7 linked regions of the Homo sapiens genome follow. The protein of the gene in region 6 purifies or fractionates together with the protein of the main gene of each other region. This does not show direct contact. Each region holds a gene or a part of one and is shown on either strand. Other genes may lie near its edges.

What was found.
Region 1: the proteins of SLC12A6 (region 6) and ZDHHC8 fractionate together in Homo sapiens (co-fractionation; one large-scale study listed by BioGRID). This does not show direct contact.
Region 2: the proteins of SLC12A6 (region 6) and CEP152 purify together in Homo sapiens (affinity purification with mass spectrometry; one large-scale study listed by BioGRID and IntAct). This does not show direct contact.
Region 3: the proteins of SLC12A6 (region 6) and FDFT1 purify together in Homo sapiens (affinity purification with mass spectrometry; 2 studies listed by BioGRID and IntAct, with this or other methods). This does not show direct contact.
Region 4: the proteins of SLC12A6 (region 6) and STK39 purify together in Homo sapiens (affinity purification with mass spectrometry; 3 studies listed by BioGRID and IntAct, with this or other methods). This does not show direct contact.
Region 5: the proteins of SLC12A6 (region 6) and ERLIN1 purify together in Homo sapiens (affinity purification with mass spectrometry, with the first as the bait; one large-scale study listed by BioGRID). This does not show direct contact.
Region 7: the proteins of SLC12A6 (region 6) and ACSL3 purify together in Homo sapiens (affinity purification with mass spectrometry; 2 studies listed by BioGRID and IntAct, with this or other methods). This does not show direct contact.

Annotation. Positions count from the first base shown.
Region 1 is NC_000022.11:20,134,282-20,138,412, forward strand, and holds part of ZDHHC8 (palmitoyltransferase ZDHHC8), read left to right. Parts: intron 1-4,131. UniProt on the Homo sapiens protein: Palmitoyltransferase that catalyzes the addition of palmitate onto various protein substrates and therefore functions in several unrelated biological processes.
Region 2 is NC_000015.10:48,755,462-48,759,592, reverse strand, and holds part of CEP152 (centrosomal protein of 152 kDa), read left to right. Parts: intron 1-3,039; coding exon 3,040-3,690; intron 3,691-4,131. UniProt on the Homo sapiens protein: Necessary for centrosome duplication; the function also seems to involve CEP63, CDK5RAP2 and WDR62 through a stepwise assembled complex at the centrosome that recruits CDK2 required for centriole duplication.
Region 3 is NC_000008.11:11,822,750-11,826,880, forward strand, and holds part of FDFT1 (squalene synthase), read left to right. Parts: intron 1-3,274; coding exon 3,275-3,466; intron 3,467-4,131. UniProt on the Homo sapiens protein: Catalyzes the condensation of 2 farnesyl pyrophosphate (FPP) moieties to form squalene. Proceeds in two distinct steps.
Region 4 is NC_000002.12:168,139,394-168,143,524, forward strand, and holds part of STK39 (STE20/SPS1-related proline-alanine-rich protein kinase), read right to left. Parts: intron 1,366-4,131; coding exon 1,256-1,365; intron 998-1,255; coding exon 896-997; intron 1-895. UniProt on the Homo sapiens protein: Effector serine/threonine-protein kinase component of the WNK-SPAK/OSR1 kinase cascade, which is involved in various processes, such as ion transport, response to hypertonic stress and blood pressure.
Region 5 is NC_000010.11:100,183,006-100,187,686, reverse strand, and holds the start of ERLIN1 (erlin-1), read left to right. Parts: upstream 1-1,657; 5' UTR 1,658-2,060; coding exon 2,061-2,173; intron 2,174-3,849; coding exon 3,850-3,931; intron 3,932-4,681. UniProt on the Homo sapiens protein: Component of the ERLIN1/ERLIN2 complex which mediates the endoplasmic reticulum-associated degradation (ERAD) of inositol 1,4,5-trisphosphate receptors (IP3Rs).
Region 6 is NC_000015.10:34,250,495-34,254,625, forward strand, and holds part of SLC12A6 (solute carrier family 12 member 6), read right to left. Parts: intron 4,096-4,131; coding exon 3,854-4,095; intron 1,891-3,853; coding exon 1,676-1,890; intron 564-1,675; coding exon 405-563; intron 236-404; coding exon 137-235; intron 1-136.
Region 7 is NC_000002.12:222,867,149-222,871,279, forward strand, and holds part of ACSL3 (fatty acid CoA ligase Acsl3), read left to right. Parts: intron 1-4,131. UniProt on the Homo sapiens protein: Acyl-CoA synthetases (ACSL) activates long-chain fatty acids for both synthesis of cellular lipids, and degradation via beta-oxidation.

The sequences.
Region 1 (4,131 bases), on a different chromosome or scaffold from region 6:
TGAATGGCTGTCAGTGATCCTGGCCTCTTCCCCGACCCGCCCCGCCTCTGCTGAACTCCTCCGAGACTGCTCAGTTCCTGAGAAGGGGTTCTGTTGGGTCGGCTGGCCCATTGATGCCACCCATAGCAGCTGTGCTGATTCTGGGTAGGCAGGGGTCCAGGCGGCCCCCTTCTTGGGGCAGGCCACTTGTCTACCCGTTGCCCCACCTCCTGCCCTGTATCTGGTCCAGGCACACAGGAAGGGGAGCAGGTTGCTCTTGTGCCCCGAATCCCTGCCCTTAGTGCCTATACAGGGTTCCCGACTTCACTGTTTGCTCCTCGGACGTTACCAGACAGTGAGTGGCCCCAGCCCCCTCTCTGCACTCAGTAAACATGAGTTGCTGCCGGTGGGGTGGCTTCACCCATGCACCAGGTGGGCAGGAGTTCTGGGTGTCATGTGGTGTGGGGAGCTGGAGGCCTGAGAACCAGGGACCCCTCCCTCAGCCAGATCGCCAAGGGTCTTGGGACCAGCAGGACATTCACACATCTCTCTAGGAGGGTCTGGGCATGGAAGGATGCCCAGTTGTGAAGAGCACCCTCTCAGGATGGGGCACATACAGCAGGGCAGTTTCTCAGAGGCCCTCTTCCTTCAGGAAGCCTTCCTAGGATTTTGTTGTTGTTTGTTTGTTTGAGACAGGGTCTCACTCTGTCACCCAGGCCAGAGTGCAGTGGTGCTACCTCGGCTCACTGCAGTCTCGACCTCCTGGGCGCAAGTGATCATCCCACCTCAGCCTCCTGAGTACCTGGGATGACAGGTGGGCACCCTCACACCTGGCTAATTTATTTATTTTTTGTTTTTTTGTTTTTTTTTAGTAGAGATGGGGTCTCGCTATGTTGCCCAGGCTATTCTCCTGAGCTCAGGTGATCTGCCAGCCTTAGCCTCCCAAAGTGCTGGGATTACATGTGTGATCACTGCTCCCGGCCCCTTCCTATGTTTCTGGGGGTTTTGTATCCCCCTGGGCTTCAGAAGCCCTTTATACCATGGTATAATGCTAGGCTGGGTCAGCTGCTGGCAGAGGGTTCGAAGACCCCTAGGCCAGGCTCCCGACCCTGCCCTGACTTCACTCCAGAGCCACATTGCAGAATGACAGGGACCCTGTGAATGTCCGAGGGCTGGGGCTGCCTGGCAGGCTGCCAGTGCCTGGGGCTGAGCCAGGCTGGCTTATCTCTGTCTGGGGCATCTGGGATGGTGTGGCTGGTCCCTAGATCGTCCTGAGCCCTCTCCTTGCCTGGAGGCCCAGCTCAGGACAGCAGTCAGAACAGGCCCTGGGCCAGACTAGCCTTGGTGGGCCAGGAGGGACTGAACTGCTGACTGGGACCTCATGAGTCTGGGGAACCTGGGAGTGAAAACTCAGTGTGAGCCCCCCTGCTGGGACCCACCGCATGTGGCCTGGGGTATTCCTGGCCCCCGAGCCTCAGTTTCCCCATCTGTCCAGGTGTCTATAGGGATTGGACAGGTAGGTGCAGGTACTTCGAGGCCCAAAGGCCTGGCCTGACAAGGGCGCAGCAGCTTCTGCCCCGCCGGTCCCGAGCGCCCCACGGGCGAGTGCCACTCATACACAAACAGTGCTAATGAAGAACCTGATTTAAATGAAAACGTCTGAGTTAAAATTTTCCATTCCACATTTAGCTGTGGCGGACATTCTGCCCCTAAGCCACCCCTCTTGCTCGGCGGTATCTCCCTGCCAGCCCAGGCGGGACTTGGGGCCTCAGCCCGGGTGGGGCCTATGGTGGTGGTGCATGTCCCTGCCTGTGGCCCTGGAGGAGGGATTGGAACCTCGGGGCTGGGCCCCCTGGACCTGCCCTCCACCCGTAGCTTGGCTGGAGCCAGCCAGGAGGGGCTCAGAGGGACATGGCGGGCCAGACACTCCACCTCCAGCCCAGGCCCAGAGCCTGTCTTTGCCTGGCCCTCCGGCAGGCGAGCCTGGTGTGCACCATCAGGTCTGGGTGGGAGTGGAGCCTCCCCGAGCCTGGACCCAGACTACTGCCTGCTAGGCCCTGCCTGTGGGAATGCGTGTCTTTGAGTGTCCCTGAGCATCCACACATGGCCTCCCCTGTCCCCATGTGTCCTCATGCATCCTTGCATGTCCTTGTGTGTCCTCCCGTGTTCTTGCGCACCCTGAGAGTGCTTGTGTGTCCTCACACTTGCCCTATCCACAGAGGGGCAAAGGGAAGCCCAGAGAGTGGGAGGGCCGTGTCTGAGGCCCAGAGTGAGGGGCAGCCGAGCCGAGGCTGGATAGGGCTGGGTGCAGTGTGAGGAGGCATGTGTCTATGCATGCCTGTGTTCACGCGTGTTCACACATAGGTCTTGGTGGGTGAGTGATGTGCAGGCGTGTCTGCGTTCATGCATGTGCACCAGTGTGTGCACGTGTGCATGTCTGCATGCAAGTGTTCATGCATGTATATGTGTTTTGTATGCAGACATGATTGCATGTGTGCATGTGTGCCTTCTGTGCACCAGAACAGGTTGTCTGTGTGTTTATGTGTGTACATGCCTGTATATTTGTGTGTGTGCACACATACCCATGCACATGTGCCCTGGAGCATGTTTGTGTGTGTGTCCATGTCTTCACACGTGTCTGTAGGTGCCTGCGTGTGCTCCTCATCTTCTCTCCCACTGAGCCCTGAGAGCTCTGGGCCCTGGTGGGTTGGCCTGTGAGCTGGTCCCTGTTAGGCAGGATCTGACCTTGGGGACTACAGAGAGGACAGTTGCCTCACTCTGGAGGACTGGAGGAGTGGGCAGCAGCTCAGGTCCCAGTCAGAGAACCCACAACAAGCCTCCCCAACCCCTGGATTAGGGCCCATATGGGCCCTCACAGGCATGTGGCAGGTACCCGCACTGGGCAGGAGGGACCCGGTCACACTGCAGATTTCCCAAAGTAGCCCCACGGCTGCAAGGCTGCTGTCCAGCCCGCCTGGTGTGGGGGAGTCCAGGCTCAGGGAGGACACAGCAGTACCGCCTGCTTGGGCTGGCAGGGAGCTCAAGTCAGCATGGGGTTCAGGCCCCGCCTGCCTGATGGGCGAACACACCCCCAAGGCCCCCGTTAGGGCCAGGAGGCAGGCTGGCAGCCAGCGCAGGTGCAGAGGGGCCCCGAGGCTTCCATCCTGAGGTCAGCACTGGGAGGACAGAGGCTGCCTCCTTGCAGCCCGAGGGTTGACCAATGGCACTCGCCGCATCCCTTCCCAGAGCAGGCCAGCCCCACGGGCATCATGAGGGCCTGCGTTTGGTTTAATGCTCCGCTGTCAACATCTTGAAATTCTCTGTAATTTTTAAATAAGGGGCCCGCAGTTTCATTTTGCACAGACTATGTAGCCAGCCTTCCCCAGAAGGCTCGTGGAGAGCTCCACAGGCCCTGCCTCTCCCTGGGGGAGCTGCTCACCTGCCTGTGCCCATCTTGTTGGGCCGACCCTGCCTTAGGGGCCTGTGGTCCTGGCTGAATGGCGTTGCATTGGAGGCCAGGCACATGTTTGAGTGCTGCCTGTGTGCCAGGCAGGGCTGGGGAGGGTGGAAGGAAGCCTGGGGGCTGAGCCACTGGGCAGGGACAGGGAGAGCCCTCCCAGCAGAGGGAGGTGTGGCCGCAGCTGTGTCCTCACCCTGGTGTCTACCTCCACGGGCTGGGCCCTGGACAAGAGGAAGGGTAACTTGGGCTCCCAGCCCCGCCGAGGATGGCTGTCGTGGGAAGCGGAGTCTTTAAATAGCCTCTTGCTTTCCACTAAAAATAGTGAAGCTCTGCTGCCGTGGAGGTGGTTGCCGGGGCGGCGGGGCTGGCTCTTGGCCAGGCGGGCGTGGGTGCAGCAGCGTGGCCACGTGCGCTGGAGTGGTAGGCAGCGCGTGGGCCCCATCCACTGCTAGTGGCCATAGAGGTCAGGGCTGCTGTGGGGGATCCCCACTAGCCCCCCGACTATGCAGAGGGCCTGGGTGCAGGGAGGGACGCAAACCCCTGTGTTCCTGTCCCTGCTGCTTGTCACAGCAGCTGTCTCAGGGTGCGCAGGGGAGAGACAAGGAGCCTGAGGCCAGAGGGGCTTCTTGGAAGCTGAGTGGGTGGATTTAGGAACCCGCTGCAGGCCGTGTGGCCCGAGGACCGGCAAGTCT
Region 2 (4,131 bases), about 15 Mb from region 6:
ATAAAAGGACTAGATGTTTTTTAATGTTCTGGAAAAATTATAGTCAAGCCCTAACACATAATGGAATATATTGGAAAGCAACAACTCAGACTGTATTGAGTCACAAAAATAGAATTCATTTTAATTCAGTGCAATACAGGTTTCAGAGGTAGGCCCTACTATAAATAAAAGCTTAATAAATTGTTTTAAAACAAGGGAATGAGGAATTATTTCATAATAGTCTTATGATAGCCAGGTAACACTTTGGAAAAATTAAGTTTACCCAACGTGTATCACAATAAATTCTAGGTTAATGAAGGAGTTAAACATTTTTAAATAAAAGTGTAGAAAAATTAAAAGAAAATTGAAGATTTCAGATCTGTACCATAATAACAACTCAGTTTTGAGGCAACATATCCAATAGCAAAGATAAAGTAATAGGTTGAAATATGTTTTGTTTTTGTAGTAAAAAGTAAAGGGAATAATAAAAATAAGAAAAATGGATAACACATGATAAATTATAATCTATATTTTTTAGTATGTCTGAAATATTTTAAAAGGAAATTTAAGAGGGAGAGAGAGAAGAAACAATATGATTGTGAGGATATGTGTCTCAGAGCTCAGAAGTCAAGTAGAATAGTAAAGTTGAGTACAATGTAGAAAATAAAACAGGCCAAGAGATCTTTTCATAAGAACATAGAAGGCTGTATGTTTGTGAAAGCAGACATATAGAAATGAGAGAAAAGTGTTTTTGTTGCTTCTCAAACTTCAGCAGGCCTGAGAATCACTTGCAGGGTTTGTTAAAGCATAGCTATCTGGGCTTTCCTCCTAGAGATAATGATATAGTAGGTCTGGAGGGTGTCCTGGGAATTTGCCTTTTTTTTTTTTTTTTTTTGAGATGGAGTCTTGCTGTGTTTCCCAGGCTGGAGTGCAGTGGCACAATCTCAGCTCACTGCAACCTCTACCTCCTGGGTTCAAGCGATTCTCCTGCCTCTGCCTCCCAAGTAGCTGGGATTATAGGTGCCCGCTACCTCGCCTGGCTAATTTTTGTATTTTTAGTAGAGATGAGGTTTCACCATATTGGCCAGGCTGGTCTTGAACTCCTGATCTCAGATGATCTTGCCCACCTCGGCCTCCCAAAGTGCTGGGATTACAGGTGGGAGTCACCGCACCTGGCTGGAATTTGCATTTCTAACAGGCTCCCAGCTGGTCTTTGGACTACACTTGGATGTAAGTAGCACTATTCCAGATAATTATATCAGCCACAAAAAATAATGTCAACATGTTGTGCATCCTTCCTCCAAACCAAAAGAGGTCCAGAAAGGGCCGGTTCCATAGCATTGGCTATAGAGTTATTTTAAGATTAGAGTGATTAGTTGAGATCTGTGACAGTGTGAAGACAGTTTCTAGAATTCAGAAGTAGTTAAGTTGGTTCAGTGGTTCTCAAACTTTGCTGCACATTGGAATAACTTGAGGATCTTTAAAAAATACTGTTGCCTGGCCCCTACCCTTAAACTTTGTTTTGTATGGGCCCTGGCCTGGGCATCAGGATTTTTAAAAGCTGCTCAGGTGATTCTAATGTGCAGCAAAGTTTGGGAAGCACTGAGTTGATGAATGCTGTCAAATTCTCTTTGTAAAACTTCACATGAGAAAATGCACATTTTGGTAAGGTTGGGCAGGTTATAAAAATTCTGTGGAATCCATCACCTCTATCCGAGTCACCTGGGAATGACTTCCAGGCATCCATTGCAACATGACCTGTTTTCTCTAAAAACACTATTTAAACATGTTTCAAATCACTACTGAATTATTCTGCTGGTAGCAAAGGAATTTTGCAGTGAATTCTTTTGTAAAGCTCACCTTAGATAGTGGGTTCCTTTAGCAGAAAATTTATTTAGTAGGTACTCTATCCCATCATCCCAGCCATATATATAGTATTGATCAATGGTAACCACCATTGTCTAGGCCAAGCCTTTGGAGATGCCCAGTTCTGTCTTTTGACACTAGTGCGTCCTTGTGCCTTCTTTGAATTCAGTTAGGAATTCAGTCAGGAATATTAAAAGTGAAAGGGACTCAAGGCCATTATCTACTCTACTCCTTTATATAGGTGAAGATGTTAGTGCCAAAGAGATTAAGTGACTTTTGCAAGGCCATGCATCCAAAAGTAATAACTACATAAGATTTATTGAGTCCTTATCATCTGCCAGGCTCTGGGCTAAGTACTTTAAATGGATTATGTCCTTATGTCATTTAATCCTAAAGGATGCTATCAAATTGGCATTGTAATTATCCCCATTTTATAGATGAGGAAATTGAGGCTCAAAGAAGTTGAGGAATGGGCCTTTAGTTCTTCAGCTGGTAAGTTAATTCCAGCAGTTTGTCTCCAGATTCTGTTCTGTTAAGCATCTGTGCTAGGCTTCCTCTGCAAATTGGTGTCAGGATTGGAGCTTAGGTTTTTTGATTTCGCTATTACTTTTTAGTTATGTACTACCTGTTTTTTTCTGTGATCCACTAGTTCTATTATTCTGTCATACAAACAAATTAGACTAATGAAAAATGACTTTTTCTGTTTGGTATTGTCCTTTAATGAACTGTTCTAGCCACTAAAAGTGCATTAAAATACAGTTACACTTATCAGCAAGTAATTATGCAGGTGTGTGCTATATTCCTAAGTAATAGTAAAAAATCCTTATGAGTCCGCTTTTGCTTTAGGTAAAAGATACTTAATTTGTTGGGGGCACAGATAAAATTTGAGATTGTATCTGTATTAAGAAAAGTAATATGAAATTTTTTCTCACATTAGTTTTGGCTAATTATATAATTATATGTGTGAGTGTTTATGTGTCTATACATACATATAAACATATTTATGTATATATTTTGACCAATTTTAGTGTAAGTATAGTTTTTAGAATAATGTCTTATCTAAAATCATGTTTCCTTTTAATTTTGATTTTACATTTCCTAGCTTCAGAGGTTAACCAAAATAGTTACCTTAATTTTTTTGCGAAGGAGGAGAATCATAAAGACTTTCAAAATGCATGTTGTTATGTTCTTTAGATATCATTTGCTGTTTCTGAAGCTAAAGAGAAATGGAAGAGTGAGCTTGAAAATATGAGGAAAAATATACTTCCTGGAAAGGAATTGGAAGAGAAGATTCATTCTCTTCAGAAGGAACTTGAGTTAAAGAACGAAGAAGTCCCTGTGGTCATCAGGGCTGAGTTAGCTAAGGCTCGGAGTGAATGGAACAAAGAAAAGCAAGAAGAAATCCACAGAATCCAAGAACAAAATGAGCAAGATTACCGGCAATTTTTAGATGATCACCGAAATAAAATTAATGAGGTGCTTGCGGCAGCTAAAGAAGACTTTATGAAACAAAAAACTGAACTACTTCTTCAGAAGGAGACAGAATTACAAACTTGTCTAGACCAGAGTCGTAGAGAATGGACTATGCAGGAAGCCAAGCGGATCCAACTGGAAATCTATCAGTATGAGGAAGACATCCTGACTGTACTTGGGGTTCTTTTAAGTGATACCCAAAAGGAGCACATCAGTGATTCTGAGGACAAGCAGCTTTTGGAAATCATGTCGACTTGTTCTTCAAAATGGATGTCTGTGCAATATTTTGAAAAACTAAAGGGCTGCATACAGAAAGCATTTCAAGATACACTTCCTCTGCTTGTAGAAAACGCTGACCCAGAATGGAAAAAGGTATGTTCCTGAGAGTGAGAGAAGGTATTGAACACCAAGAATGATTATAGAAGTTGTATATAGTGTTTTTTCCTTTTTTCCTTTTAAATTTTAGTAGATGTAAGTCTTATGTTTTTGTCAGTGGTTTAAAAAAGTTTCTGTAGCGAAATCCAAAGGTTTGCATGTTTCGTTGCCAAAAAACTTTACTACTTCATAGTGTCACAAATACAAGACAAGATTTTAGCCTCTAAATATCTTTTTCCTAAAGAATATTTAGGACAAATACCTAATGCATGCGGGGCCTAAAACCTAGATGACAGGTTGATAGGTGCAGCAAACCACCATGGCACATGTATACCTATGTAGTAAACCTTCACGTTCAGCACATGTATCCCAGAACTTAAAATAAAATAAAGAATATATGCTGTTCTTTCTAAGGGCCTGAGATTTCAGAAACTGAAA
Region 3 (4,131 bases), on a different chromosome or scaffold from region 6:
AGGTTGCAGTGAGCCATGATTGTGCCACTGCACTCCAACGTGGGTGACAGAGCAAGACACCATCTGAAAGAAAATAAAGTTGAAGTTAAAACTTCTGGCCAAGAACCAGCACTGGTTATGATAGTAACTCATTTTCTGTTGTGCAGATTTATTCAGGAAACTTAATTTTAGGTTGTTGAATAGAAGTTTTGATCAGATAAAATTGAATTAAAAAAAATTTTTTTTGAGACAGGGTCTTGCTGTTATCCAGGCTGGTGTGTAGTGGTGTGATCACGGCTCCCCGCAGCCTCAACCTCCTGGGCTCAGGTGATCCTCCCACCTCAGCCTACCGAGTAGCTGTAACTACAGTGCATGACACCATACCAGGCTCATTTTTGTACATTTTTTGTAGAGAGAGGGTTTTGCCATGTTGCCCAGGCTAGTCTCAAACTCCTGGCATCAAACAGTCCTCCCACTCTGGCCTCTCAAATGTTGGGATTACAGGCATGACCAGCCAATTATTTCAAGGAGTTATTTTTTTTCTTCTACTTTGGGGGAAGATGAATTATATAAGTCTCCATTTTAGGAGTATTTCTACCAAAAGAACTATTATCTTCAAATATATTTTTGGATAGTACTATAGATATACTAATTTTTTTTTAAATTTCTAGTAATTCTTTTGAAGATTTTGTATAGCTGTCCAAAGCCAATTTCTGTCTACCTAATTTCAGCAAGATTTCACTCTTTTCATGTTACTTTTGTCCCAGAACAAATTTCAAGTGCTTTCTCTTCACCTGTGCATTCTTCCCCCTGATTAGTCTCTGGCTTTGTATTACTTTCAGTCAGAGACGACTTTTTTTTTTTGAGACAGGGTCTCACTCTGTCACCCAGACTGGAATGCAGTGGCACAGACAAGGCAGCCTTGACCTTCTGGGCTCAAGCAATCTTCCTTGCCCTCAGCCTCCTGAGTAACTGGGACCACAGGCACGTTGCCACCATGCCTGGCTAATTTATTTTAATTTTTATTATTTTTGAGACAGGGTATTGCTCTGTCACCCAGGCTGGAGTGTAGTGGCATGATCAAGGCTCACTGCAGCCTTCACCTCCTGTGCTCAAGCAGTCCTCTCACCTCAGCCTCCCCATTAGCTGGGACTATAGGTCCACACCACTACACCAGGCTAATTTTTGTAATTTTTTGGTAGAGACAGGGTTTCATCGTGTTGCCTAGGCTGGTCTTGAGCTCCTGGGCTCAAGCGATTCACCTGCCTTAGCCTCCCAGGTGTGAGCCACTACACTCAGCCTTTTAAAATTTTTTACAGAGATGAGGTCTTGCTTTGTTGGCCAGGCTGGTCTAAAACTCTTGGGCTCAAGCAGTCCCCTCTCCACAGCCTCCCAAAATTCCGGGATTACAGGCGTGAACTTCGGTCATTTCCTAACTTTTACCCTTCCTAATGACACTCCAGAGCTTACCTTCTTTACTTTTGCTTCTTAAGTTAACTAATAGACAATTATTGTATGTGGATATTGCATTAAGTTGTCTTAGGATACCCTTTTCAGAGGAGGACAGCTTTTGACAAATTGCTGTCGCGGAAAAAAAAAGTATTTGGCAATTAAGAGTTGCATTTACTGAAATCTCTGTTGAGAGAGGGGAAGTTACGTTGTCTCTAAAAGAAAAACTAAAAAGAAAAGGGGAAGTTTTAGCAAAGTTGTTAAAGCCTGACACTTAAGTCATACTACCTAGTTTTGAACTCTTAGCCCCTGCCACAGACACGGCAGCCCCTTGAACCTTCCTGGGTTCAAGCGAGCCTCCTACTTCAGCCCCCTGAGTAACTGGGACCACTGGCCTGTGTCACTGTGCCTGGCTAATTTTTTTTTTTTCTCACATGGGCAATGTTGGGCAAGTTAAATCGACTTCTTTGTGCCTCAGTTTCCTCATCTGAAATGGAGATCATACTGCTATGTACCTGATACAATGTTTGTGAGGATTGAATGTGCAGAGTTCTTTTTTTCTGTTGTTGTTGTTTTGAGACGGAGTCTCACTCTGTCGCCCAGGCTGGAGTGCAGTGGCGCGATCTCGGCTCCCTGCAAGCTCCACCTCCTGGGTTCACGCCATTCTCCTGCCTTAGCCTTCTGAGTAGCTGGGACTACAGGCACCCGCCACCAGGCCAGCTAATTTTTTTGTATTTTTAGTAGAGACGGGGTTTCACCGTCTTAGCCAGGATGGTCTTGATCTCCTGATCTCGTGATCCGCCCGTCTCAGCTTCCCAAAGTGCTGGGATTACAGGCATGAGCCATCGTGCCCGGCTGAATGTGCAGAGTTCTTAAAACCGTGTCAAGAACATAAAATAGTTATTTGTTCTTTCATATAATGATGATTTTGAGGGCCTGCGGATCTTGACATGTTATCAGATTGGTCAAAAAAAGATTAAACCATAGTTGGTATTGTCCTAGTTCCTGTTACCAGAATATTCCATCTTTCATCGTTGCCTTCTCTCATAGTTTTATGTATCAAAAAGTTTATTGTAAAGCTAGGGCGGGCACGGTGTCTTGGGCTGGTAATCCCAGCACTTTGGGAGGCCAAGGCTGGCAGATCAGTTGAGGTCAGGAGTTCGAGACCAGCGTGGCCAACATGGTGAAACCCCGTCTCTACTAAAAATAAAAAATTAGCTGGATGTGGTGGTGGGTGCTTTAATTCCAGCTACTCAGGAAGCTGAGGCAGGAGAATCACTTGAACCCAAGAGGCAGAGGTTGCAGTGAGTTGAGATTGTGCCAGTGCACTCCAGCCCAGGGGACAAAGTGAGACTTGATCTCAAAAAAAAAAAAAAAAAAAAAGTTATTGTAAAGCTAGACACGGTGGTATTTGCCTACAATCCCAGCTGTTCGGGAAGCTGAGGCAGAAAGATTGCTTGGGTCCAGTAGTTTGAGTCTAACGTGGGCAAATATATGAGACTCCATCTCAAAAAAAAAATAAAAAATAAAAATAAAAAAATGTTTACTAGTTTTTTTCAGTAGCCTTTTATTATAGTAGCAGTACATGTGTATTGTAGAAATTTGGAAAATACAAGTGAAAAATAAAAACATCAAATTCCCGTCAGCCAGAGACTGCTATGAAATGTTTTGAGCACATCCTTCTTGAATGTTTTTTAAATCCTGGTATGTATATTTGTATTTTAAAATCAAAATGCATTCTTACCCATTCTCTTTTGAACCTGCTTTTTTGTAGCTAATGATCTCTAGTGTGTCCATTTCAGTAAAAATTCCATTATTAAAGTGCTTTAAAAATCGTCTCTTACAGTACTGCCACTATGTTGCTGGGCTGGTCGGAATTGGCCTTTCCCGTCTTTTCTCAGCCTCAGAGTTTGAAGACCCCTTAGTTGGTGAAGATACAGAACGTGCCAACTCTATGGGCCTGTTTTTGCAGAAAACAAACATCATCCGTGACTATCTGGAAGACCAGCAAGGAGGAAGAGAGTTCTGGCCTCAAGAGGTAACAGATTCAGGGTATTTTGGGGGAAAATAACTTTAGACATTCTCTGAAAAATCCTTTAACTCTTGTGGTTGCGGGTGACAGAAAAACAAGTCAGGCCTCCCCCAGGCAGCATAAGGGGATGTGGAAAATAGGATAGCTTGACATGAGTTTGCTTCAGGTAGACTGGCTGACTCCCAGGATTCACACCACGTAATCAGTATATTCAAGCCTTGCTGTCCTTGATTTCTTTCAGACGGTCTTTCTCCAAGTGGTGGATATGGTAACAACCCATGTGCACTAGCTTAACAAAAAGTTCTTAGGAATGGCTTTGTTCGGCCTGGCGCAGTGGCTCATGCCTGTAATCCCAACAGTTTGAGAGGCCAAGGTGGGCGGATCACCTGAGGCCAGGAGTTCGAGACCAGCCTGGCCAACATCGTGAAACCCCGTGTTTACTAAAAAATACAAAAATTAGCCGGGCGTGGTGGCAAGGGCTTGTAATCCCAGCTACCTGGGAGGCTGAGGCAGGAGAATCGCTTGAACCCAGGAAGCAGAGATTGCGGTGAGCTCAGATTGTGCCACTGCACTCCAGCCTGGGCGACAGAGTGAGACTCCCTCTCAAAAGAAGAGGAAGGGCTTGGTTCTTCTGCTCAGCCCTGAATCAGTTACTGTTGCTACACAGCTGA
Region 4 (4,131 bases), on a different chromosome or scaffold from region 6:
ATGTTAAAAAAAATTTATATATATATATATAAAAACAATAAAATGAATTACACTGAAACCTTAGTAGAGATTGTCTGGTTGATGAGATTACGGATGATTGTTTTTCTTCTTTAGTCTGAGTTGCACATCCAAACTTTCTACAATATGAGTATACTACTTCTTTTAATCAGTAAAACTCACTTTTTATTCTTGGGTTTTTAAAATAAATCCTCCCAAATTTTTCCAGTAACCATGAAACAATCATAGACCATACTCTATGTAAAATAGCATTATAATTTCACTAAACTATTTCAGCCTCAAAACAAAATCCAGTTGGGTAAATAAGCCCTGATACCACTATCTCAGAACTAAGAGAAATAATGAGGTATAAACCAGTTAAAAGAAGAGCAGAAACGTGAAAATAGCATCCTAAAAACACTGTGGCTCACTTATATCAGATCAGTTGCCAACATTACACTATAAGAGCAGGGGTAAAAATGTTGTAGTCCACTTAAAAAGAAAGAAAAAAAAAAGCTCTGAAAATCTGGGAAACCCATTTGCAGAGATGACATCACTATAATCTATTTTGAGATATTCTCTGGGAACCTGGCGTTGTTCTGCTATCAAAAGAGTAATGACCAGCATTTGTCATAGCTATCAACCTCCATCAACCAATCTGATAACATTATTTTCTTAACTCTGTGCTGAGACTATAAAGCAAGCTTCAAAGCTGGGAATTATGCTACTTTTGTCCTATTCTGTCCACTGAGAAAATCAGACAATGTTCAACTTGGCTGCGTTCCTCCATTAATTCTCCTCGGGTCTAAGAGAAGAATGAAGATGTTGAAGAGAATTAGAAAACAGATTCCGTCCAATCACATTTCAACCCCGATGTAGTATTTCCAATTGTAATTACTTTCATGGGAGGATATTTGTGATAAGGCGCTGCTCCTGTTGCTAATTCAATGGCAGTTATTCCAAAACTCCACATGTCAGCCTTGAAGTCATAGCCTCTCACCTAAGAAAGAAAGCAGGAAAAAAACACAATCATACAGCAGGCATGTTACACATCATCAAGTCCATGTCATGTCAGAAATCCACAGCTGTTGATGTATAACTTTCACGTTAGTTTGCTAATTAGCTAGCAATTGAGAATTAAATCTTAGTTACATTATGCATTCTACTAAAATGCTAGATACAAATGAAATGTTAGCATATTAATGATCTGTACGATTGTACTATGTCCATCAAAAAGTCACTTTTTTTGTTTTTTTACCTGTTCCATGACTTCAGGAGCCATCCAACATGGGGTGCCAACGAATGTTTTTCTTACTTTATTTCGGGTAACATCACCCCCTGTTGCTAGGAACGCACTTACCCCAAAATCTGAAAGGGAAAAAAAAATCACCTTTATTTTATGTAAGACATTATTGCTTATAAATTGTGATTTTTTGAGCATGTCTCTTCTTTGTGAGCTTTACAGTGGTGATGAACTATTCCAAACATGTCTACGGTGCTCTCTCAGGAAAAAAAAGGAAGACCTGCCCTCTGCTATCCCCTACACCTTGGAGAATACCATCGCTGGTAATGGGCCACAAGCCTGCCGGTCCAAAAGCTTAGCATACCAAATTAAATATAAAGGGTGTTAGCTTTTAGCTGAGGTATATAAAGATAAGATATATAAAGCCAACATGCCCGAGTATGTCCATATGCAAAAAAGCTTAGTCAGCAAAGACTGATTTTCTGGACAATTTTCATAAGTACAGAGGCAATGGATTGTACAAGTAAATAATATTTTTCTTAACTTTAACTCATTATATATAGAAGTTAATTTTATAAGAAGATGAATTAATTAGGCATACTGTACAGATTGAGCATCCGGAAATGCTTGCGACCAGAAATGTTTTAGATTTTGGATTTTTTCTCATTTTAAAATACTTGCATTATATACTAAACTAGTTAAGTACCCCTCATTCGAAAACCAGAAATCTGAAATGTACCCGTGAACATTTCCTTTGAATGTCACCTCACATTCAAAAAGTTTCAGAATTTGGAACATTTGAGATTTCACATATTCTGATTTAGGGATACTCAACCTATATATACATACAGGCACATGTGTAAAAATTCTATTTGTATGTACAGTACAGAAGGGAATGCCTGGCAATTATTAACGTACTATTCTTGCTTTCATTTTTACACAGTGGTTAAAAGTAGTTGATAAGTTAAAGTACCAATTACTCAAGACTAGTGTACCTATCAATGATAGCCAGGTCAAGGACTACTTGATAGCGAGCTGGTGGGTAGTAATAAAAACAGGTAGGCAACACATCAAAACACCACAGCGCAATGTGCAGTCTGAGCCCCTGCAAATCGCTCTCATACGCTTTTCCTTTGCGAGTCCCCCTTGTTGGCTGTCAGGGTGACAGCAATTACCAAAAAACACCCTCAAGTACAAACCAAGGTCAAAATGTATTAGCATTTGCTGTAGGCCTATAAGGTTAGTTTATGCAATTGTAACTTAATAACATTGTAACTGGTTTCCTGAGTAGAAATACATTGAATGTTGCATTTTATTTATATTTAAATTTACTCATACTCCCAACAGGATTTCAACTACAAATAAAAGGAATGAAAATTGACAAATGGAGTCTTTGTTCCAACTGCTACTCTCATGTTCATATTGAATAAAAGTATATATGTTTAAACTGCTAAATAACTTAATATGCATATATGTTTCCAACTCTAAAGCCCTTTTAATTCTTATACTGCAGCCAGAAAACTGAAGTCTTGTGAAAAGAAATCTCTGGAACCAGTCAGTCTCCTGTGGGTGGGAGAAGATACAATTCATTCTCTTAGAGAAGAGTTAGGTGAATTAAAATATTTGTAAGCATCTACTATATCTGCTGGAAAAAATATATATGATAAAACTTTGAAAGCTACTAATTTCAACTTAATTTATATTTCTAAAAAGAAGTTCAACGATGAATCCAACATTTCATTTTTATTAAAATGATTTTATAATATAATATGAAATAAATACATATCATCTATAAATTAAGGATACAGGTAAAAGCTGCTTTAAGGAAAAATTGATTATTTTAAATGCAATTGAAGCAACTCTGCACCCTAAAGTCTCTTCCTAAAAGACATAATCCAGGTAAAAATCCATAGTTAACATTAGATATATTTCCACTTCCTTAAAAATACTACCTGCTTACATTACACATTTTAAAAAGTTAGAAAACAGCCGAAAAAGATGTATAGTAGCCATTTATTATTGACAATACCCTTTCAATATATCTGTAATGATACATACATTCAGAGCCTCCACTTTGAACACTCACTTTAAAGTCATAAACAGATGGCTAAATGTCTTTAAAACTCAGAACAAAAATTTCAGGAGCAGAAAACAACAATCCTAATATCTACTCCCTCTATGACTACAGAAGAAATATACAATTTGCTCCTATGTACGGCTGATGTGTATACAGATTATATGTACTCAGTAACAGAACATTTTGAGCAAAGTACATAGTGTGCTTATGTTATATACACAAAAAATTGGTATATTATATTGAGATAGCTTGCATATGACAGTTAGAACAAGGTGGCAGAACTGTAACAGTGAAAAGCTGTCCTTGTTTCCTAAGGGGTACATCTATACAGCCAAAGGGAATGCAGCCAGATTCACTTGGGTACAAAACCACAGACATTTCTCTAGAAACACAGAATCAAAGGCTACACATAAAGTTAGCCAGTCCATCTCCCTGCCTCCAGGAATAACTGGAGGATATGGGTAAATGCTGCTTTAAGAAAAACAACAACAACAACAAATAATGCTGTCATCCTAATAACAAAAAGGGTCTAAGACCTTCTGAATCCATCCACTTCTTTGCTCCTCCACAGCCACTGCCTTCATTTAATCCACCACTACTTCTTGCTAAGATTTCTGCAGCAGCCTCCTAAGTTCCCATCTCCCTTCTTTCCCCAGATCCAGGCTCCAGCAACCAGGCCTTTCTATGTCACAGGCCTGAGCCCTCCTTAAAAGACTTTCAGGACAGGAGCGGTGGCTCATGCCTGTAACCCCAGCACTTTGGGAGGCCAATGCAAGTGGATCACGAGGTCAGGAGTTCAAGACCATCCAGGCCA
Region 5 (4,681 bases), on a different chromosome or scaffold from region 6:
CTATTATAGTGGGATCCCCAAACTTGCTTTTGATGCATGAGTTGGACCACTATTTTTTGGTGGGTAACAACTTTTCAGAGGGGAATGGCAGTTGTGAATTGTATACATTTCATTCTTTAAGCAATATTATGAAAAACTTCAGAGAATGTCTACAGAAAACAGGGTATGGAGCAAGTTATTTTCCATTCTTTTTGCTTTTTGGAAGTTAAAATAGCTAAGCTCTGCAAATATCATTTATTTGGAACAGATAAGGTCCCAGACATTCCTAGATAATAAAAATCAAATGAATGATACAGGTAAGTGTATTTATTGAAGGGTGTGGGTAGAGTGGTCTGGGAAGTCTTGCTTTAATGAAGACGGATTGATTCTATTTACCTCTTCTTACTTCCACTACTAAGTAACCCTGGGCCTGCAGTTTCCTAACCACTTGACTTCCTTGCCAACAGTCTGTCTCCACTTTCAGCCGTTTTATAGATTCATTGGCCCTAAAGCACTGCTTTCCCATACTTCCCTACCCAAGAGGGCAGGGGTCCCCAAGCCCTGGGCCGCGGACCGGAACCAGACAGTGGCCTGTTAGGAACCAAGCCGGATAGCAGGAGGTGAGCGGCGGGCGAGTGAGCATTATCGCCTTGAGCTCTGCCTGCTGTCAGATTAGCGAGTGGCATCAGATTCTCATAGGCACGCGAACCCTATTGTGAACTGCACATGTGAGGTTTGCCGGCTCCCTGTGAGAATCTAATGCCTGATGATCTGAAGTGGAACAGTTTCATCCCCAACCCACACACACCCCCACCCCGTCCGCTGGGTTAGAGGACTTTACAACCCTAGTCCACCTTGTCCAGTTATAGTTCCACCTCTAGCCTTTCAAGGCTTAAACCATTAATGTCCTTAATTTCTCTTGTATTCATCTATCTCCCAACTATACCTTTTTCCTTCCCTTTTTTATTTTTGGCAATATGTGCCCATGGTTTTTTAATTTAAAACGAACAGAATATGTAGTGACGCCTACCATAGCACTCCTTCCCATCACACAAGCCTTCAAGGAAACTGAAGTACTTACTTTGGTCTCCCTGGAGGATTCCCTCCGCCTCCCGCCCCATGTGCTTAGCAATTCTGTTCCTGTAGTCTGGATGGCCTTCATAAAGCCCTCACTGGACCAGCATTCTGGCACATAATAGGAACACTTAAAAAACGAGAGAATGATGCCGTTATATCTAATATCTTCCTCTTCTGAACTTTCACAGCACTTTATTTGCAACAAGTTTAGTTGCTCCTGAAGGGCAGGATCTCTGCCGGAAGCAAGTGCGTGCCACACAGTGGGGCTCCGCATACACTGCAAAAGGACAAATAAACCGAACAGCTACCGTTTGAGAGTGAGCGAGTGGGTTCTCTGCACAAGAACAAACCAACCAGTCCCTTGTCCGAAAGGGCGTCTCCTTTTCTCTGCTTCGCTGCTCACTCCAGACTGCGGGCTGTCCTCTTCCGAAGCAGTTAACCAGCAGTGTACAGAAAGCGACTTGCCTCCAAAGGAGCCTGCGCGGCCCGCGGCTAGGAGAATTTTGTCCCATGCGCTCCCCGTCTCACTAGCCGCGGGCCGGGGCTACGCCGTGTGCGTCCCCGCGCAGCCGCAGTGCTGGGCGAGTGGGCGGGGCCGGCTGTTGGCGGCGGTTGGCTCGGCGCGGGAGTCGGCTGCACGTGCGGGCGGGGGCGATGCGTCACTGATCGGTGAGGCGCGGCCGAGGGGTCGGCTTTCCTCGCGAGCCTGCGGCTGGGCTTCTTCTCAGTTAGTGCCTTCCACCCGGGAGCGACCCTTGGGAGAGGGAGTTTCAGGAAGCTCACCGAGCAGGGGCGGCCCACTGGCCTCCGGGGGCGGAGGAGTTGGCAAGGGGTCAGCGGGCTCAGCCAGAAGGGAAGAATGAGGGGACAGGGGTACTGGACTCCCCGGCTCAGCCTGCGAGAGAGCGCCAAGTTTCCGGAGGGAGAGGGTAGAAACTGGAGGGGGTGGACCTGTCACTCACGGGACTGAGGGTCCTTTTCTCCCGCTCCCAGGAGGAACGAGAATGAATATGACTCAAGCCCGGGTTCTGGTGGCTGCAGTGGTGGGGTTGGTGGCTGTCCTGCTCTACGCCTCCATCCACAAGATTGAGGAGGGCCATCTGGCTGTGTACTACAGGTGAGCGGCATGTGCAGTCAGTTAGGGCTCTAGAGCAGATTAAAAGGGTACTCCAGAGTGGAGTCTGGGAAGTTGTTCCCTCTGCAACGTTCGGGGGCGCATGTCCCATCTCTAGGGAGAGCACGGGGGTCGAAGCGGGCTTTTGCGGAGCACCCTCCAGATGTTGGACAGTTTTAGTGCTATGTTCGTTTTGTTGCAGAGATTAAGTCTCCCTACGGTTATTCCTATACACAGCAAACTCAATTATTTGTAGAAAAATGAAGAAGGAAGAAAGGAAGTAGTCACTCTACCTCTAACTGAAGAGATGGATAAATTATAGTTCGTTCAACTGTACAGGCTTTAGTTTGCCGCTGTAGATGCTGTATGTTTATGGTTGTTTCTTAGACTTTTTCATTTAAAAGCTTCCAGTGTCTGGTTACGTCTTGTAACACCATGATGACTGTGATGGTGCTTATGTCCCTGGACCTCCAGGGACATAAGCACAACACTGATGGGCCATGCTCCTCCCTCCTTACTGTTGCTGTTCAAGTTGGGGACAGGAGTGGTGTGGGAGCTGTTGCTCTCTTGTTGAGCTCGCTTAGCTTTTCCTTCAGCCTAATTACCACAAGTTCCTTTTGATACAGACTAGTAAGAGAGGCCAGTTTGTGGAGAAATTGGGATAATGGTGTATTCAAAAAGAGCGTCAACTTTTTGCTTGTTTCCACTATCCCTCAAAACTGATATTTCTACTTTCAAATCCATCCTGAATCCTAGAAAAAGAGCAATTTTAATGGTATATCTTAGCAGATGGAGCTCTACATAAGAAATTACAGATTAGTCCAGATTTCCTTCCAGTTTAAAAGCATTGTCTTTCTGACAGTAAAACCAGAGAAAGGACATTTCAAGGAATGACTCAAAGAATTAGTAATGAACCTCAAACAGTTCATCTTTCCTTGTTATTATGACCTTGCAAATGTGTTTATATTTTCAAGACCGGTAGCTAAGTTCTATGAATTTACAAGGTGCAAAATAGGACTTTGTTTTCTTTGCTCCCCAAATGCCTCCTTTTTATAATTTCCAGGGCTTGCTTTCATAGTTTTCACATTCCAGGATTTGGTTAACAAGCCCTTATGCTATTTATTTGTATAGTCTTGTCACCCTTCATCTTTTCATGCTAATTTTTTGTTTTTATATAGAAATTTTATGTTCCCAGTATTTTAATTACCTTGTAGATAGATCGAAAGAATTATAAGCCTCAGAAATTTTCTCTTTACTTCAAAGTTTGCATTGTCTTTTTTTCAACCTGGTGATTAAATGTATTATATATTTTGATTTGGCTCTTGTTATGTACTATTAATGTACCTCTACTGAAAGCCATTAGAATTTTTTAAACAAATATTTCTCAGAAGGTTAAAGACCGAGGAGAATCCTTTGAACCTTAGAGCAGTGCTGGAGACCCAGAGGTACGGTTGGTTGAGCTTATGAAACAAGGTGTAACATTGGCAGTTTAATTTGATCTTTTTCCCTTTTTAGGTGTGGAGGTATTTTAAGCAGTTGTTCATTATGAGCAATTCATATTAGTGAGGCTTTAGTAGGTCAGCAGCATGAGCAAGAGTGAGTATTTATTATAGCATTTTAGATTTGGAAAGATAATTTTTCTTTTTATAATTTTGTCAAATTGAAACATCTTTTTGCAGGGGAGGAGCTTTACTAACTAGCCCCAGTGGACCAGGCTATCATATCATGTTGCCTTTCATTACTACGTTCAGATCTGTGCAGGTGAGTGATTCCTAGGGGAAGCCTCCATACCAGATAGACAGGCATGACAGGAGTTACCACACTTGTGGGTGGAGATAGATTTCCTTATTGCTTAAGCAGATGGTGGTATTTACTTAAATGCAGAAGTTAACGTTCAGAGTACAGTTGTTACAACACAAGTTATGATGTTAAACCACCTCACTTACTTGAAATGAATTAAAGGTATGAACCAGGAAGCTTGGAAGGACTGACTTCTACCATCTATATCGTGGTATATAGCAAATTTTCTGTTGCTGCTGTCACAATAAAAGTAAGAATTAGAAACACAACTAGACATACAAACCAGTGATTATGTGGTTTAGAACAGTGTTTAGTTTCCATAGAGGCAGGCTCCTGGGCTACTGTTAACATGGAGGATCAAAATTTTTATACACAGCCTTTCTGCCTCATGTTTTTTTGCCTGGTATATTAAGCACAATTTTATGTGGAACCTTAGTGAATGTTATATTTTGATGGCATCCCGGGATATTTGAAATAAGTGTCTAATCCTCGAAAAGTGTCTTGGCCATGGGAGACAATAAAATAAGTATCTTTCAATGTAACAAGATGACAAAACCAGGATTAGGCTGTGACCACTTTCGCAAGCCCAGTGTGATCATAAATCTTTGGATTCAGAAGTTTGTCTGCCATCTGCTGCTAATTTTTCAGGACTCAGGAAAATTCTGTGTTATTTAATCTTGTAATCTTATGTCTAGGCTTCCTGCTAAGTGA
Region 6 (4,131 bases):
AGGTAGGCAGATAATCTGGCAAGAAGTGAAGTGATAGAAAGCAGGTATCTTTGTTACCAGGATAAAAATACTGATCATCTAGTTCTACTGGATGCTCCTATGACTAAGACTCAGACTGGATCCATAAAAAGGATACAAACAAAGGAGGTGGTCAGGATGGCAAGGATAGTACCAATCGGAATAGACTTCTGAGCATCTTTCAGATCTCCAGATCTGTTTGATCCAGCCATGATACCTTTAGAGATAAGGGGGAAAAAACCAAGTTAACTTCTTGGACACTTTGATATTGATACTGATAGCAAAGAGTAGAAGCAAATCTAGGAACCCTGAGAATTCTGCCTCCTGAGAAAAATCACTCCGTGGGTCTGACAGCTTCTAAAATATACAACAGCCTATGTGTTTACCTGTAACAGAGGGAAAGAAGATTCCCACCAGAAGCGTGAAGGAGGTGGTGATGTCAACAAGAACATATTCATGGTTTAAGCTGCCTAAGACATCAGAAGATTTGGCTGAAGGCTTTTCGATGATCTCTCCCTTGGGTAGGTAATTACTCCAAAGATTCTCTGCAGTGGGAAAAATGGGAATTTAAGCAGCAGCAGTATGAAAAAAAAAAGATAATTAATTTTCTACCCAAACATTCAAAATCAGGCTCCTCATTTATACAGTTTCTAAAGGTGTGTTTGCTTCTACATGAGCACATGTATACACACACATTGCACAATAAAACACACATAAATAAAAACATAGTTTTTTTTTTGTTTGTTTGTTTTTTGAGACAGAGTTTTACTCTGTCACCAGGCTGGAGTGCAGTGGCACAATCTTGGCTCACTGCAAGCTCTGCCTCCCAGGTTCACGCCATTCTCCTGCCTCAGCATCCTGAGTAGCTGGGACTACAGGCGCCTGCCACCACGCCCAGCTAATTTTTTATATTTTTAGTAGAGACGAGGTTTCACCATGTTAGCCAGGATGGTCTCGATCTCCTGACCTCATGATCCTCCCACCTAGGCCTCCCAAAGTGCTAGGATTACAGGCATAACCCACGGCGCCCAGCTAAACATAATGTTCTTTCTTATCTAATTTAAATATAATTTGACAAAATGATTTGGTACATGCAAATATAGTTTAACTTTACTAATGCAAATTAGTAAAAGTTAAACAGACTAAAACTAAATGCCCCACAAATCCCATTATTATTTGTCATCAGTGCTGTTTCTAACACCTTAATGTAAACTTACTTATGTGCAAAGAAATTTATAGACCAAACATTTATAATAGAAGACACTTAAGGAATGTTTCAGGAATTTAGCTAAGTTAGGAAGATACATGTGGATGTGGACATTAAAACAGGTCTATTCTGTCAGTGCAGGAAGAACATTGGCAATTTTACAAGAATACACGGAATATTTTACCGTAAGGTTAGAAAGTGATTTGCTCAACTCTGCTCTGAAATGGAGGTGAATTTTAGCAGACATCACTCTGTAAAGGAGTACTGAATAAGGACAGCTTTACTAATGGAAAAGCAGAAATATGGTGAATTAAGAGCTGTGTGGTGTGCTTAAGAAGGGAATTAGCACCATGGCAGTGAATCTTTATGGACAGTAGAGGAATCTAAGATGACAAGGCCTATTTTCCCCAGAAAATAGGAAAAAACTTGTCCAATAACTCCCTAACTTACCTGTAATTATACCACTAGCCAATCCAGGAATGCCCTGGATTGAAGTGACGTTATTGTGAACAAAGTATTCATCACAGGTGGCATTGAAAAATTGACTCGAGTTACAGAAGAATCCCCATAACTTTGATGGGACTGTCATGTTGTTAATTTCCTTGGTCTTAGAGCAAACGTCAATGTGTCTTGATGAAAGGGTGCGGTTACCCAGCATGCAGACCCTAAGTGAAAAGAAATAGGGAGAAAGATCAAGTAAGGAAAAAAAGTACATTAAAAAAAAAGGAAACAGGTTAGTAAAGGAAACAAGAACCCCATCTTTAAGAGCTTCTACTGTTATGGGTGGGAAAGGAACTAATGTTTATTTATTTATAATTTATTTTAACACTGTGAATGGTGACTTACATTTTCTGCCAATTTAATACTTACAGCAACCTCACAATGTATTAGAATTTCTATGTTGTGGATGGAGGCACTGAAGTTTAGGAAGACAGGGAGTTAATTGAAGGTTAGGGAAATACAGTTATCTGTCCAAGGTCATAGGTGGTGGCAGTGAAGGAAGTCAAATTGAAGAACTGTCTGAAGACATTATGCTGACTCATCTTCCAAAATTTTTGGCTAAAATTGTTAGGTCTAAAAGAATACTGAAGTCCTTTTGTTGTTCTTATAAAGTAAAAAGCACTCCTCTTTTTTTGGCCTAGAAAAGCCTAACATTCATAACAAACACCTTGAAAATGTTATGCTAAAGGTTGAATCTTCTGGCTACTGTTGCAAGGAAAACAGCTTGGTCAGAATTAAAAGGCAGATCCCTCTATGGCCTAAGAGAAAACTGTTTTTGAATTTAAGCCTAGACTCAGTGGGAGTGACGGTAAGGATAACATAAATATTAACCTGCTGGTTTTACTTTTTTCTTTAACCCAGAGACACAAATATAAACAAAGGAATAATACATCCATAGTTAAAATACCTCTCAGGTCCAACAAAGGGACTTCTAAAATTTGCAAAATGATTGAATACATTATTATGAACCATGTACCTATTACTCAGCTTCAACAACTCTCAACATTTCCCAGTCTTGTTTCATGTATTATTCTAGATTTTTTGTCTTGTTTTGCTGGAATATCTCAAAGAAAATACCATGCATTATGACCGTGTACTAATCAAAAAAGAGGAGAAGCCCCAAAGGTGAACCTGAGACAAAATGGAATTTCCCAAATTGAGATATAACCAGAATGTCACCTTTAGAAATTTTATGCCCCTAAAAAGGACCTTCAGCTGTATTACAGTCCCTAGATAAGCAGATTAAAAGTTTAAGATGGAATCTACTTCTGCCATCATGCAGCATAGCATAGAAGAAATACTGAATGGGGAGTCAGGAAATCACAGTTCATCTTCTTGCTCTGCCATTAATTAACTTTGAGGTAAGTCATTAAACCTACTGGAACTGTCTTTTTGTCTTGAAAAATCTTTTTTTCTGTAATCTGGTTAAATCAACATAGAACCGATGAGTTTGATCCTCAGATAATCCAGATGACTCTTCAAGATAATTCTGTAACAAGACTACAAATAACACTGAGTGCCAGCTAGTCCCTATGCCACTAGTCAAAGGGAAAAGTGAGCCTGTGAGTCACAGATGTGCACAAATCCATTACTACTTCAAAAAACATACTTTAAAGTATTCGCACTAGGGAGTTGAAGGAGGTGGTGAATGATGAGAGAGTACTTAATGGGTACAAAGTACATTATTTGGGTAATGGATAAAAGCCCTGACCTAGGCTGGGCGCAGTGGCTCACGCCTGTAATCCCAGCACGTCGGGAGGCCAAGGTGGGCCTTATAAAGGTTGCTGGCAATAACTACACTGTCTGCAAAGCCCTTTATGAATAGTTCAAAATGTGTATAATAAAAAAAGATTATGTACAATTATCAGGGAGAAAAAAATCTAATATCTGAACCTAAATGATGGTTACAGCTACTAGTTCTATGCTTAGGACATAAGAAAGAGGATGAACGGGACATAGTTTGCTGGTAGGCTTCCTGCCTAGATGAGGAAGGAAGTCTAACTGGGCTTATCTGAGAGGGAAAATCTCAGAGAGACTCTATGAAATTCTGACTTAAAATTATCACACCACCAGATATTTTCAATTACTACCCAATAAGGATGGCTAGGCAGAGAGACAGACACGTACGGGAAGTGTGGAGGAGCAAAAGAAGACTTGATGGCTCCAGCATAGATGGCCAAGATGGACACAATGACACAGGCCAGGAAAAGTGAGGCAAACTTGTTCACATAGCGTACGCCGATAAATACCACTAATACCATAAGGACCAAGAAAGCTGTGCCGTAGACACGCATGTTATTTAGCATGGCTGCTGATTCCTTGAGTGCGTCATCACTGTGAAAGATGGCAGCTCGGGGGACGATATAGACCTGTTAGGTAAAAATAAAGGAGAAAATTAGGTTATT
Region 7 (4,131 bases), on a different chromosome or scaffold from region 6:
GACTTGAACATAATTCCTCAGGATGCTTTCCCCTTTAACCTTACTTCGCAGGAATTGTTATTGACTTTTTAGATTGGAATATAAAGGAATTTGGGATCCCATAGTCTGCTAATTCCATTTTCTTTTCCTGTCTTTTAACTAAAATATTGACGCACTTTCTGTATGTTTGAAAAATATTTCATAAAATTTAATCCACTTAAAGAAACCCACTCCTTTCCCCCAAATCTTACAGCTAACCACTGCTCTGAATTTGGTGTTTATTATTCCTATGTATTTCTGTACAGCTTTATTACACATGTGTGTTTCCTTAGACAGTGTATAGTATTGTTTTGTGTATTCTTAAACTTTATATAGATGGTACTGCATGTATTCTTGTTCAGCATACTGTTTATTTTATCCCCACTCAAAATCACTTAGCAGTGTGGTTTCATGAATTGAGTTTCAACTCAATTCATCAGTGTGGGTTCATGTAGATTTAGGTCATTTATTTTTACTGTGACAAGTTAGTACATTTTAGGTCTATACCATATTTATTTCCCCTTTGCTCTCTTGATAGACTTTTAGGCTGTTTCCATTTTTTTTGTTATTACAAACATTATTACCGTTAAGTATTATTGAACACAAGTCTTTGTTTTAATTTTTGACACTGTAGTTAACCTGTGCTCCTTTTTCTCTGTTCTTCACATTTTTGTCTCGGCCTTCCTCTAATCGTTTCATTATTTGAGCTAAGGTACCATTCTTTGTCCATTATACTTAACAGTACAAAACTGTAATGGGCACTTTTCCTCGAAGGCTCTTTTTAGTAATCTTTACTTTAGTTAACTTTCTTTGCTTTTTTTTTTTTTAAATAAAAATATCTTAAAATATAGAAATATCTTGAACATATTTTACAGATATATATTATTTTACTTGTAATTCCATGCATGACTGCAGGGATAATTCACGTGTACCCTTTCTCTTGGGAAACGTTTCTGTGTTGATGTACATTTGATTTAGCTAATTCTGTATTTTAGTGTTTGTTTCCTTTAAATATTTTCCTCTAAATGTAGTGCACTTTTTTCATTGCAGTTTGGTGGGTAGGAACATGAGCTCAGAGTTAAGATTGCTTGGATTGGAATCCGGGCTCTACTTTTTAGCTGTGTGTCTTTGGGCAGCGTATTTAATTTCTATGTCTCAATTTCTTCATCTGTAAAATGGAGATAATAGAAATCTACCCGTAGATTGTTGTGAGATTCAAATGAGGTGTCTGGCATAGTCATTACTCAATACATATTAGCTATTTTTATTAGTTTTATTTTTTGTTAGAGTATGCAGTATTTTCTAAGCCTACTCAGTTTGTGGTGTTGCCTTCTTTTTTGAAGCAGCATTTTAACACAGACATCTATGCCTCAAGGAAATGTGTGATGTTTTATAACTGTTAGTGGAGATTGGGAAGAGATACTGTAAACTGTAGCAAACCATAAGTTGAGGTACATTAACTAGATTGTTATATTTTAATATCAATAATTTAGGATTTGGTTGGGCATGGTGGCTTATGCCTTTAATCCCAGCACTTTGGGAGGCCGAGGAGGGCGGATCACCTGAGGTCAGGAGTTTGAGTCCAGCCTGGCCAATGTGGCATGAGTCCAGCCTGGCCAATGTGGTGAAATCCCGTCTCTACTAAAAATACAAATTAGCTGGGTGTGGTAGCGGGTGCCTGTAATCCCAGCTACTTGGGAGGCTGAGACAGGAGAATTGCTTGAACCTGGGAAGTGGAGGTTGCAGTGAGCCAAGATCATGCCATTGCACTCCAGCCTGGGCAACAGAGGGAGACGCTGTCTCAAAAAAAAAAAAAAAATTAGGATTTATCGTGTTTCAATTTTTTTGAAATACGTATAAAGCACTTTGAAAGTGAGTTGACATGGTGAAATTCTCAGATAATTACCAAGGGTCTACTCTTGTTAGTTTTAAATACCTTTTGTAATATGACCCTGATAATGATTCAGATGGTGTTTCTAAGTATATTATCCTATGTCATCAACCTTGTGTTGTTCAGTGGAGAAGGAACCATTGCCATCCATGTATGTAAAGCTTCATAGGTAAATTTGAGCGAGTGACTTAACCTTTCTCAGCCTTCCATTTCAATTTCTGTAACATAAAGATTTCAATTCTTACCTCACAAGGTTATCATGACTTATGTTAGTTGCTTCCTTCATCTCTCTGGCTCCCCTGTCTTCTCTTGTAACTTCCTTTTTTTCTGTTTTCCCTATGTATATTCTTTCTTCCTCTTTATCCCTTCTCTGCCCTTCACAAGTAGTTTTTTGGTAAATGGTAACAAGACATTCTGAACCAGTGTGTGAGTGAACCCATTATATTAATAAAAATACACATTATTTAAAGGGGACTAGGAAATGTTAATTCTGTAAGGACAAGAGGATTTAGGCCATATGAAGTTACAGAGGAGATGCTGTAAATGTTAAATGAGCAGTATAAAGGACAGAGAGGTCATGTTTTGCCACAGTAGCCAGGGAATGGTCAGCTGAGCAAAATGAGACTAATGTTAGATTTGAAGAAAGATTTGTGAGGAAGGTATTCACATAGGATGTCCAGTGGGCAGTGGAGTTTGGAAGATTGGCAAATAAAACTGAGCCATCAACTGCTTGGGAGGACTCAGGAAGCTGTGAGGATAAATCACATCCCATGGGGAAGAAAGGCACATGGACTTGGAGGACAAAAGCAATTAAGACCTAGCGTAACCTCTTTATTTATTGATTAAACTCTGAAAGTAGTTGTTGAATGAATTAAACCTTCTAGGAATAGAAAGGGAGAACTAGCAGCTAGCAAATGGAGAGAATTGAGTGGCTCTGAGTTGTTGCAGGAGGAGCTTTGAAGGTCTGGCCCGAGTTGTTTGTAACCCTGCCGTTGAGACTGGTGGTGTGGCATTGTCTGTGCCATTTAGTCTGACTGGACTTCTGGTTTTTTTTTTTTTTTGGTCTGTAATCCTTTCTTGCTTTTGGGGGATGGAGAGGGATCTGCTTCATCACTGTTCTTTTTACCTCCTTTTCCCCCTCCTTTACTTGACTCAGGATTTTTGTTACCTGTGCCATATTTATTTCTTAGGTGTCTTTGACTTTATCAGTTAGCTTTGTGCATTTCCCCATGTATTCATTGATGTGTTTACTACCTGGAATTTAATGGGGTGTTTGCATGAGTCTCTTCCTCTTTTGACATCTCAATAAGCAAGATTCTCATGGAAACCATCTCAGAGGCAGTGGGCAGTAAATAGATGGAGTGAAAGATGAGGCAGAACTGTTTCTCTGCATTCTATATTGAGATGTACAATTGTTTAACAAATAATTACAAAAGAAAATGAGTGCCATGAGAGAGTGCCCTAAGGGGTCAGCGGATGGGTAGAGAAGTTCAGGCTGGGGCTAGGGCCAGTGGAGGTTTGGGTATCAGAGAATGCCTAATCAATTTAGATGCTAAGAGATAACTAGGCTTTGAATGTATGCAGAAGAATAAAGGACATTCCAGGTAGAGCTAACAGGGCAAAATGAGCAAAGGCAGAGAAGACAGGTAAGGGAGACAAAGAAGTGGATGGAATTGATTTGTTTGTAGTGTGCGAAGTAGAGAGTTGGAAGGTGAGAGTTGAAAAGTAAGCTGACTTCAAGTTGTGGAGAGTCTTAAGTACTTGGCAGACGAGTTTGGAATTGTTTTTTATTCCTTCTTTTTTTTCCCCTTTTGGACAATGAGGAGGGAATTGAGATTCTTGAAGAGAGGATTGATGTGAAATACGGGTTATAAGGGAGTGGCAACGTCACACTGGCAACATGAATGAAGGATGCATTGATGGAGGAGGGGGAGAGGGGACTAGAGACAGAGGAATAGTTAAGGATACAGTTGAATTCTGCCAGGTGACAGGAGTAAGGACCTGAACTGATAAAGTAACACGTGAGAAAGGGCAGGAGGCAGGGGATGACAGAGGAAGCAGAACCATCGGGACTTGGCAACTGACTGGATCTTTGCAGGGCAAGGGAAGGGAACATTACCAAATGCTTTTTAAGTTTTGAGTAAGTTCTAGAAATGGGAAGAGTCAGCTTTCCATTTGAGTTGGGAAAGGTGAAAGCAGAGTGACAGTAGAAGATGTGGAAA